Homo sapiens: one gene and its partner. The protein of the gene in region 2 interacts with the protein of the main gene of each other region in a pairwise test. Each region holds a gene or a part of one and is shown on either strand. Other genes may lie near its edges.

What was found. Proteins that work in one complex are often made in the same cells at the same time.
Region 1: the proteins of CDK14 (region 2) and SEPTIN8 interact in a two-hybrid assay, tested with the Homo sapiens proteins (one study listed by BioGRID).

What each region holds. Positions count from the first base shown.
Region 1 is NC_000005.10:132,750,319-132,753,239, reverse strand, and holds the end of SEPTIN8 (septin-8), read left to right. Parts: exon of another isoform or gene 1-269; coding exon of another isoform or gene 270-374; exon of another isoform or gene 375-1,043; coding exon of another isoform or gene 1,044-1,058; coding exon 1,059-1,224; coding exon of another isoform or gene 1,225-1,322; 3' UTR 1,323-2,116; coding exon of another isoform or gene 2,117-2,383; 3' UTR 2,384-2,421; downstream 2,422-2,921. Other genes in the region: CCNI2 (cyclin-I2), read right to left, coding at 270-374, 1,044-1,322, 2,243-2,383. UniProt on the Homo sapiens protein: Filament-forming cytoskeletal GTPase. May play a role in platelet secretion. Seems to participate in the process of SNARE complex formation in synaptic vesicles.
Region 2 is NC_000007.14:91,110,319-91,117,475, reverse strand, and holds part of CDK14 (cyclin-dependent kinase 14), read right to left. Parts: intron 4,935-7,157; coding exon 4,795-4,934; intron 1-4,794. UniProt on the Homo sapiens protein: Serine/threonine-protein kinase involved in the control of the eukaryotic cell cycle, whose activity is controlled by an associated cyclin.

The DNA.
Region 1 (2,921 bases), on a different chromosome or scaffold from region 2:
CATACTCCCTGGCTTCAGGCCCAGAGGAGAAAAAGGGAAGACAGGGTCATAGTCTATCAGACCACCCTGACCTCTACTGACCTCAGCCTGCCTTTCCCCTCTCCCCTTTATTTTTTTTCCAAGGGCTCAGTTGGGAACTTTTTCTCAGTTGCTCTTCCAGAGCCACCTTCCCTTTTTACAGGATTCATAACAAGCCAAAGAACTCATGGTAGTCCAAGCAAGGAGGTTTCACACTATGCTCTGAAAGCCCCGGGGTGGAGGCAGAGGGGCTAGTTGGCAGGTGACACAAAGTTGTCTGTGCAGGAGGATGACTGAAGACTTCTCAGTTGCTGCATTACAAGTTCCTTGCAGCAGCTGTACTGCATATCACCAACCTGTATTAGAATAGAGTGGCCATCTTCAAGCAGAACCATCATACATTCTAAGAAATTGGCAATTGAGTGCCAAAATGTTAGCATGAAGCAAGTTCAGGAAGGTCCAACCACCCAACTAAGGACCACTAATCCTACCATCTCAGGGACATCCATTTCCAACCTCAGTAAAGTTGTCATTAGTCTAACTATGCATTCCATCCTAACCTATCTGTTCTGAGGGATTCTGACACACCCCTCTCCTCCTTGTGCCCCCACAATGCTTGCCTCATGGTACCCCTGTACCTGGTACCACACACTCATACAAAGGAGAGGTGAAGGAGTTTAGAATTTATGCTCCTCAGTATTAAGCTCAGGGTTGCTTCCTCCTAAGCCAGACATACCCCTGACTCCCCACAGTCCTCTTGGCTACAAGGGCTCCCATTGAGATAAAGATTCTCTCACTCTCAGAGACCACCCCCATTGGTCCAGTGAAGGGAACACATGTCCCATCTCAAGTGCATAGAGCGTGACCAAGTGTGGAAAGCCTAGCCTTTGGGCAGACTCTTTCCAGGGTTATGGCCAGAACATTTTCCAGAGGCTACAAGGGCAAAGGGTACCCCTTTGGGGTCAGAGTGTGTCAGCTAAAGGGGCAAAACACAGAGCCTGGTCTGGGGCAAAGTTGATGTCTACCTGTGCTTTCTTTAGCAGATCAGATATAGGAGCACACCAGCCGGGCATGAGCCTCTCCAGCTCTAAGGTGATGATGACCAAGGCCAGTGTGGAGCCCTTGAACTGCAGCAGCTGGTGGCCCGCCATACAGTGCTGCAGCTGCCTGGTCAGGGATGCGACGTGGAGGGAAGGATTCCTCTGAGGCAGCAGCTCCAACACATGGGGCCAGCTCAGGACCACCAGGGCATGGAACTGGAGACCATGGTTTTTAATGTTAGAACAGAAAACGCCATACTTTTCCTATATCAATGATCAAAAGTGCAAACAATTTAAATTTCCATCAGGGAACATCAAATGTTGCCCAACCCTTTTCATTCCTATCCATGGCTCCGTAAGGGGCTTGAGGCTTAATGCCCATCCTGTGGCCAAGCTGAGCTTCCACTCCGGGACCAAAAAAAAAAAAAAGTCTGCTTTGTGACATCATCGTTATGAGCGGAAAGTACCTAGATGACAATGTTTCCATTCTGAAAAATAGAAACATACTATTCAAGACCAAGGTAGCAGAAAAGTTACTTGTATCTGCTTATCATAAGACGAAACTCTGCAACTTGGCAACGGTGGCCAGTTTTCGTAATGAAACAGTCTTTAGTAATTTAATCTTCATGCTTCATAACAAACCAAAACCCCATGAGATTTCCACATTGCATAATTTTGCCTTACTAACAGAATCATATCCTTAAGGATGACCATCATTCCCCCAACTAAAACAAATACAAACTAATGTATGATATTTTTTTAAGTGCCAGATCAATATGGTCTAAAGCTTCAATAAGGATTGTGTGTAGGTGAATAAAGACAGCTAAGTGAATGTGTGTAAAGTGTAGCAAAAGCAGACAGATATTTATGTACAGTATTCATAGAATGGAAAGTTAAATATTTTTGCAGTGTGTATTTAAAAGAGAAACTCACCATAATAGTGCCGTCTAAAAATCTTTGTAAAGTTAATTTAATGTCCTTTAGAAGTGGGAGTCTGGTGGAACTGTGTTGGATTTAAGATACCTTTTCACTCTTCCGTATGTCATGAGCCTTGTGCGTCACCTCACTGTGGTGCATGTGCAAGGGCGTGTGCACGCCTGTGCTTTGCCATCCCATGTTGTAAACAGCTGTTCCAAAGGCACAAACGAGTTTAGGGTAGACTCTGTAAACACCTCCTTACTCACTATAGTCAAGAAGTCCAGCGGCGTCCCAATATAGAGGTCCCAGTGCAGTCTGTCCAGAATAGCCAGCTCCATCCTCAGCAGCTCATTCGGGGAATAGTCAGAGCCATAGTGCTTTGTGAAGTCTTTTACTTGTGGAATAAACTGTAAAAAGAAAATAAAGAGGCCAAAGCCCTACATCATGTCATAGTAGCTTTTGTTTTCTTACCCATGGGGACTGGGCATTCATGACCTTAGTGGAGTTGTCTTCCTGTGGCCTGCCACAGAAAATGCTTCTGAAAGAAATACTAAACCAGATCTTGGCTATCTGTCAAATCCTCAGGTAGTTATGTAGTGAACATCACATGGTCCCCCTCTGAAACCGGGTCTTGATCCCCCAGCTGCATGCTAGCTCATACCCAAAGGTGCTTTGGAGGCTGGGGCTGTGCCATCTCCCCTGTTCAGCTGCAAGAACTCACCCCAAGCTTTCCAGGAGCCATGGGTTCTGCCTCTCCCTATTCCTGATCCCTACCGTGGGTACTGGGCATAGAGAAAAAAACTATGCTTTTGAGCTTCCTAGTCTGTACCAGACACATTGATAAAACCTCCTATGGGTTTTTTAGCATCGCAACTGCAAACACATTTCCTTCAACCTTGATTGAAGGTGGTTCAGTTCTGGAAAAACTATGGCTTTTCCCACAGA
Region 2 (7,157 bases):
ATGCGTATGTCTAGAGGGAGAGCAAGCACAAAATATAAGAAGAAGAAACAGTGAGAGCTGACTTTAAGGAGGCAAGAAGAGAAGCAGGCAAACCAGGTAGGAGGCAACTGTAAAAATGTGGGTGAAAGATGGTGAGTGACTGAGGGCAGCGTGATAGCAGTGAAGTGAGGAGTGGCGTGCGTGATCCTGGATATACTGTGAAGGTAGCAACAATACGGTCTGTGGAAGAACTGAATGTGGAGTAGAACCAAAAAAAGATGATTAGGGATACCTTCCATCAACTGGAAGAATGATGCTGCTATTTATTGACAACGGTAAGACTAGAGAAGGCGCAAGTTTGAGGGGAAAGATGAGTTCAGTTTTGGTAAGATTAAGTGTGAGAGGCCTACTAGATGGTCAAATGGAAATGTTGAGTGTCAGTTGGATATGCAAGTCAAGTCAGGGAAGACAGGACTGGAGATGGATATTTGAAAACTGCCAGTGTATAGATGATATTTAAATCATGAGATGGGATGAGATCATCTAGGCTCCAGGGAGTCCATGCAGATAGACAGATCTGAGGATTCAGCCCCAGGACACTCTAATGTGAAAGGTCTGGCAGATGAGGAGAAATCAGCAAAGGAGTGTGAACAGGAGACTTTAGTTTTCTAAACTAAAGGAAAGCAATGAGAGAATACTGTCCTGGAAACCAAGCGAAAGAAGTATTAGTAGGAGGAGATGGTTGTCAATTGTGTTGAATCTTCGATAGGCTGGGAAAAGACCAATGGATAGAGACTTCGAAAGCCAGGCGTTGTGGACACAAAAGCCTGGTTGTAAAGGATTCAAAACAGCATGAAAGTCTACGAACTGAAGGTAGCAAATCTTAAATCTGAAATGGGTGCACCTGTTTTATTTTTAAAAAGACAGCATAGAGCTACATTAAGAGCATTATGCTGTTCTAGGATGATATACAGAACATATACAGGAATATGTGGGAAAATCGACAAACTCTAGAGCTAGAAAGGTCCCTGGAGACTACTGTGCCCACCTCACTTGCTCCTTAAGTGAGAAATGGGAAGCTCAGAGAGACCAAGGCACTTGTCCAAAGTTCCCTGGCTAGTTAACAGTGGAGCTGAAGCTGCAATCCAGGTGGTCTGATTCCCAGTTCAGTGCTCTTCACACTGTACCGATTTGTTGGCCTTCTTTCACTGAATTTGAGTTTTGTGAATTAGCAAATGAGTGTAATAAAATCAAGGACTCTGTGCTATGAAGTGTATTTTGTTCATTTACTTTGACAAGGGTAGTTCAGCTTCAATTATTTATGTAACTTGATAGTATATGCAGGAGAATGCCCTGTGGTGTATTTGGGAAAAGTAATGAATTTCTTCTAAATCAGCCCTCCATTTACTTCCCTGCAATTAAATCTTTGAGAAGAAGTGGGACAAAGCTGTTGGGGTTTCAGGACAGAGGGAGAATGACAGGGTGCCACCAGAATTAGCCAGCTTTAACAGCCAGATCCCCAGATAACTGTACCATTATTCTTGCTTTCTGCTTTTATAATTCCTGCTTCAGTGCCACACTAATACATTACCTCTAAATTTTGGTACTATGTAACCTGATGAGGTTTTAAGGAATAGTATACTAAAGAAAGATATTACATTACTATGTATTCTTCCAAAGCCAGAGTCTGACATAAGCCCGTAATTTCACTTTTGTACGAATCTATGAAATGACTGCAGGGCTCTGTGTTACTCAGGCTCCAACCACACTTGATGCCCTTCTCATGGGGTCTGACATATTACACTAGGCCAAGAAGGCTCAAATCTACTTGTAACTTATTTTTGTTCCCATCTTCTCCTTTTAACCTGACTTTGCTTCCTGCTTGCATAAGTGTTTTCCTCTTGTGGAAATTCTTTAGAAAGTGCTATGAGCCATCTTTAAGAATGAGAGTGCTATGGATTGAATTGTGTCCGTCCTCAAATTCATCTGTTGAAGCCCTAACCCCTAATGTGATGGCATTTGGAGATGGGGCCTTAGGAGGGTAATTAGGGTTAGATGAACTCATAAGGGAGGGGCCCTCATGATGAGATTAATGGCTTTGTGAGAAGAGGAAGAGATTGCTCTCTCCACCCTGTGAAGACACAGCAAGGTGCCCTTCACAAACTGAGAAGAAAGACCTTACCAGGAACCGAATCTGCTGGCACCTTTATCTTGGACCTCCCATCCCCAAGAGAAATAAATGTCTGCTGTTTAAGCCACCCAGTCTAAGGTATTTTGTTATTGCAGTGTGACCAAACTAAGACAGCGAGGTTCCTAAACTACAGCTTGGTTGCTAAGACAATCCATTTACTGGTTCTGTAACACTTCTTTCCAGGTGGATCTCCTTCCAAATCTCCTTAAAAAAGAAATACGTAAGGGTATTACAGGTGCTGCTGCTACTGCTGCCACTGCCACTGCTGCCTTTGCCAGATGGTGAACTTTTACAAGACTCTATGCTAATATGAAATTTAATTATAAAAATTTAAAAAACTTCTAAATATACTCTGCAGAATACTAACCTAGATAATAAGTCACCCAAACCAGTCATTTCACTTAAAGAAACCAATTCCCTAAGTCTCCAAAGTCTGGGAATTCTTTGTTTTGTAAACATGTTTACAAGTACAGCCACGTTGTTCTAAATGGAAATGACTATAGTATTTAATACTGGGATTGTCCTTTCTTGCAACTGGATTTATGCCTCATAATGATTATCTTCTAGACACAGAAATAGCATTTCTGTAACTCAAAATTGTTACCGGAGGCATTTAGTAGAATCTTGGTTTAAAAATATAATGATTTTTCATCTTTATTCTCCCCCCTTCAAAAGGTTTCACTGCTCCTGATGTTTAACGTTATGCAAAGACGTGTTTCTGCCAATGAATATCGCCTTACGGTTATGCTTCTGCAAATAGCCTGCTGTGAGCTGATAAAGGGATTAATGCAGCCAAAATTCTTAATCTGTAAAATTACAAATTAAATTCTCATATTAAAAATACCACCCTGAGGTATTTTTTGTGGTTTTAATTCCCCTCTGGTGTTCTGCATACTTTGTGCTTGTTAATGACGGGGACAAGGCTGTCTCCCTTGGCAGTCTGCTGCCGAGTGATAATGTGTAGGCATTTACTCACTGATAGAAACTGGATTTAACCACTGGCTGATAAACTAAGTGGCAAGTGGGTAATAAGTCCATATTAACAGAAAAGTACTACTACAGAATTCAGAATTCATAGACCATCAAAATCCTGGCTTAAACTCAATCTTCAAGTCAGATGGGATTGAGATGTCACCAAGGAGGAGTGATACCAAGTTACAAGTTACACTAAATGGGAAAACAAACCATATGTTTGAGTGTGATGAGCCGTAAACTAGTGAGCCTATTTACAGCATTTTTGTTTTCAGTATAGGAAAATTATTTTCCCATAGGGATTTAATTTTTAATTTAAAAAAAATTGAGGATAGCTGTTGTAATAGTCAGTGAGTAGACTTTAGAAAGGGCAGAGTGTTGAGTAAACATGGGCTGGAAATACGTGAAATGTTAAGGAGGATTTGCTAAGCATTAAGGGGAGTAGTAGATTAATATATCTATAGTGACTTTAGGGTTAAAAAAAAGTAATGAGAAATAAATGTGGGATATCAAAAAAAGATTTAGGATAGAAATACCCAAGAGGAGTTGCACTTAGAACTTAGTTCCAAAATAAAGGGTTATTGCCATCAAGGAGAATCCAATATTATGATGGATGAAAGAAGTCTAAAATCCAAGATAATGAAGAAATAATCATATGTCTACTGTAAGTGATGTATACCAAGGATTAATAAACACATTATAAATATTAATGTATATATGCAGTATGTTCATTTTTAAGGCAATCAGAAAAGAGTATAGAAGAAATATCTCTAATTGTTCTTTGGAAAGAACATATCACCATTGAACAAAAATATTCTGACGGCAATAGTTTTTACAAAATTTCACAAGAATTCTGTTTCACACTCTGGAAGAAATCTGAGATCCTCCCAGCCATAAATCCTCCCCCAAATATTTAAAATGTAATTTTAAAAGGCTGTATAAATATGTAGACTTTTATAAAAACAAAACAAAACCCACCCAGGAATGTGTTTTAAAAGATTCAGAGAAGAGCTGTCTGTACAAATACCAAGAGCATTTGCAGTTAAAATGAATTACATGTCTTCAGTCTGTACATGTCAATTCAGTGCATTAGCCAATTGCCAACTCTGCTCCTCAGCTCGCTGCATAGCAGCCCTTTTTAAGGTTATTGTTACAACCAAGATGGTCTCTGAGAATCAAACAGAAATGAATCATCGGCTCCTCTGTGTACTGCAGCCAGTTAAAAAGTACTGTATGCATAAAGCACTAAATATGTAAATCATATTTTCCTTTTCCTTTATGACTGTTCAGATCATTTTTTTGGACACACACATAATCAAATACAAAGATGCACAGCTGCAGACTGCAGAGCAGAGATAGCAAAAAAGGAATCCATTTTCTTCCTGTGTCTGGTAAGCTAGCAAATGAATGGCAGGATTCCACTAAATATATATACACATGGCCCCCCTTCCCCTGTTCTCTCTCTCTCTCTCTCTCTCTCCACACATACACACACACACACACACACACACCTGTAATGCACATACAAACATACATTATCTTATGTTTGTGGACACACAAATATGTGAATCTCTGCATACACGTTACATACAGATGCCAAAATAAAATGATGTGTCTGCTTGGACTGGATGTTGTGGATTTGTCATACTCACTGTCGGTGAGTTCCCATAGCCGTGGCGGCAGGTCACTAAAATACTCGTGGCTCAAGGCAGCCTGTGCCGACAGTCTGTTCTTTGGGGAACATTGTAGGAGCTTGGAGGCCAGGTCCTCTGCATGGTTCACATAGCTGAGCCTAAAAACATGAGCAAAAAAGAGAGGTCAGACCAAACAAGAAAATCCACTAAATAAGACATAAAGCTTACCTAATTTTTCTGGATTTCAATTTATTCCTGGCTAGAAAAACAAATTACCTGCTGAAATAAACAGAAGCAAAATGCATGTTGGTTCTCAGAGTATTTGTTACTTCAAACTTACTTTTACTCTAGGTATAACAGTATAATTGATTTAAAATATTTCTACTATAGGCAAAGGATTGATACTTTCCGAAAAGATAAAACTAGGTCCAGAGGTAGAAAATTTCAGAAGACAACATATCAAATAATTATTAGAATTTGTTAATAGAATCTATGTACTATACCCACATCTGGATATATTTATAGAAAATTAATAACAAATACTAAAGAATTAAAATAAAACTGCTATTAAATTCTCCAGTTACTAAAGTTTCTTTTCCTCTAAGAATTTATATTTTCTTGCATTGAATATGAATTAACATTACTGAAACAGTGCCCTGTCAAATATCAACTATCATAATATTAATAAACAGGTTAGCAAAGGGGATGTGCTTAGATGATACGGGGCTGAATCAATTCAAGATGACCTTTAAAACAACAGTAGATAGAAAATATGTGTCTCAAGATTACAGAAAAAGGCGTAATAATAAAGTCTTTCATGTGGTATAAGCTTTCAAATGGGTAGCAGCACTTCTCAGTCCAGCTCAGCCTTGCTTTTCATGGAACCTCTATTTCTCTACTCAGAGCAATCAAGCCTGGATAATTAATATAATAATGATAATAAAAGTATTCCTAATAATGGCTAGCATTTCTGGATAGTTGAACATGCGTCAGGCACTTTCCTAGGCACTTTTAACACTCGTATTTATTATAGTCTGAGAAGGTAACAATTGCTATTTTGTAGTGGTGGAAGCCAAGTAGGAGTCAGAGATGGCAGTGGATCACTTGGGTAGCAAGTTGAGAGGAGATTCCAATCCATCCAGAACTTCTTGACTCTAAAGTGGTTTGCATATGCCATGCTCTCTTTCTCTCACAGGTTATTTTAAAGGCATTTCCCAATGGATTCTCCAGTTTCTGAAACCCGGTGCAATATATACAGTGACTCTCAGAGGCAGCCAGAAGTGGGTGAGGGAGAGCTGCACCTTCCAGTAGGTATTTCTTTAAAAATCCTTGAAGCTACTCAAGACACAATTAGCCAACAAACATATTTCCTCAATGACCAACAATCTCCTCCTTCCCCTCCTCAACCAATTCTTTAGTATTTATTTCAAATTGTTGGGGATGGGGGTATGAAGAGAAGATGAGGTAATGGATTTGGGTAGAGAAGGAAAAAGGGGAAAAGCAAAGAAAAATATTACACAAAGATCCAAACTAAGAGACTTTCTCTCTACATCTTGTTATGTGAAGGCCTCACAAATGGGTTCAATGTGTGGCTGCTGCAATGGCTGTTCACGAAAAAAATGGATCAATGGATTGGTTTTAACTGTCTCTCCCTGGAAGAGAGAAATTTGTCCACAGGGAACGAAAGCATTCTCAAAATTCTTCACAGTTTTTTCCCCTTTAAGAGGGCACAGGGCCATTCATATTATTCCTTCCTCTTCCCAAGACTTTATCACTAGTACAACTTTTCATTCATATTTTTAAAAAATCAAACGCAAAGTTTGAGATAGGCTTCATGGTTAAAAGTTATATTGAATGTACAGTTCATAGTTAATTATGGTGAACAGTATGTTCATATCAATTTTATATAGTTTTGATAAAATAGAACAACCAGATTAGGACTAGATCTGAGTTTCAGGCTTAATACTGCTATCATTTTCCTAAATTCAGACAAATAACTATTATTAAAAGAAAAAAAGGAATATTATTAATCGCCCAAACTGTATGTTGTTACATTGCATGTAAATACAAGAAGAGAAAGGTGATTGCGATAGTTGGTGCACAAGTACTTAACTCAGAAGTCAAGAGTATAAAAAACATGAAATACAAAGCAAGACATACTATTTTTGATCTTGGTTTTCTCATCTATTGAAAAATAGTGATGAACCACATTATGTCTGCAGTCCCTCCAGTTCCAAGAAGCCATGAATCACATCTGAAGCATGGTTTCATTATCTCGAAGAATTATAAACACTTATAGTTGTATCTCTGTTTCTGCAGTAAATTGTTGACTATATTTAAATACAGTATATGCCTCATATAAGGAATTCATCAATATAAGA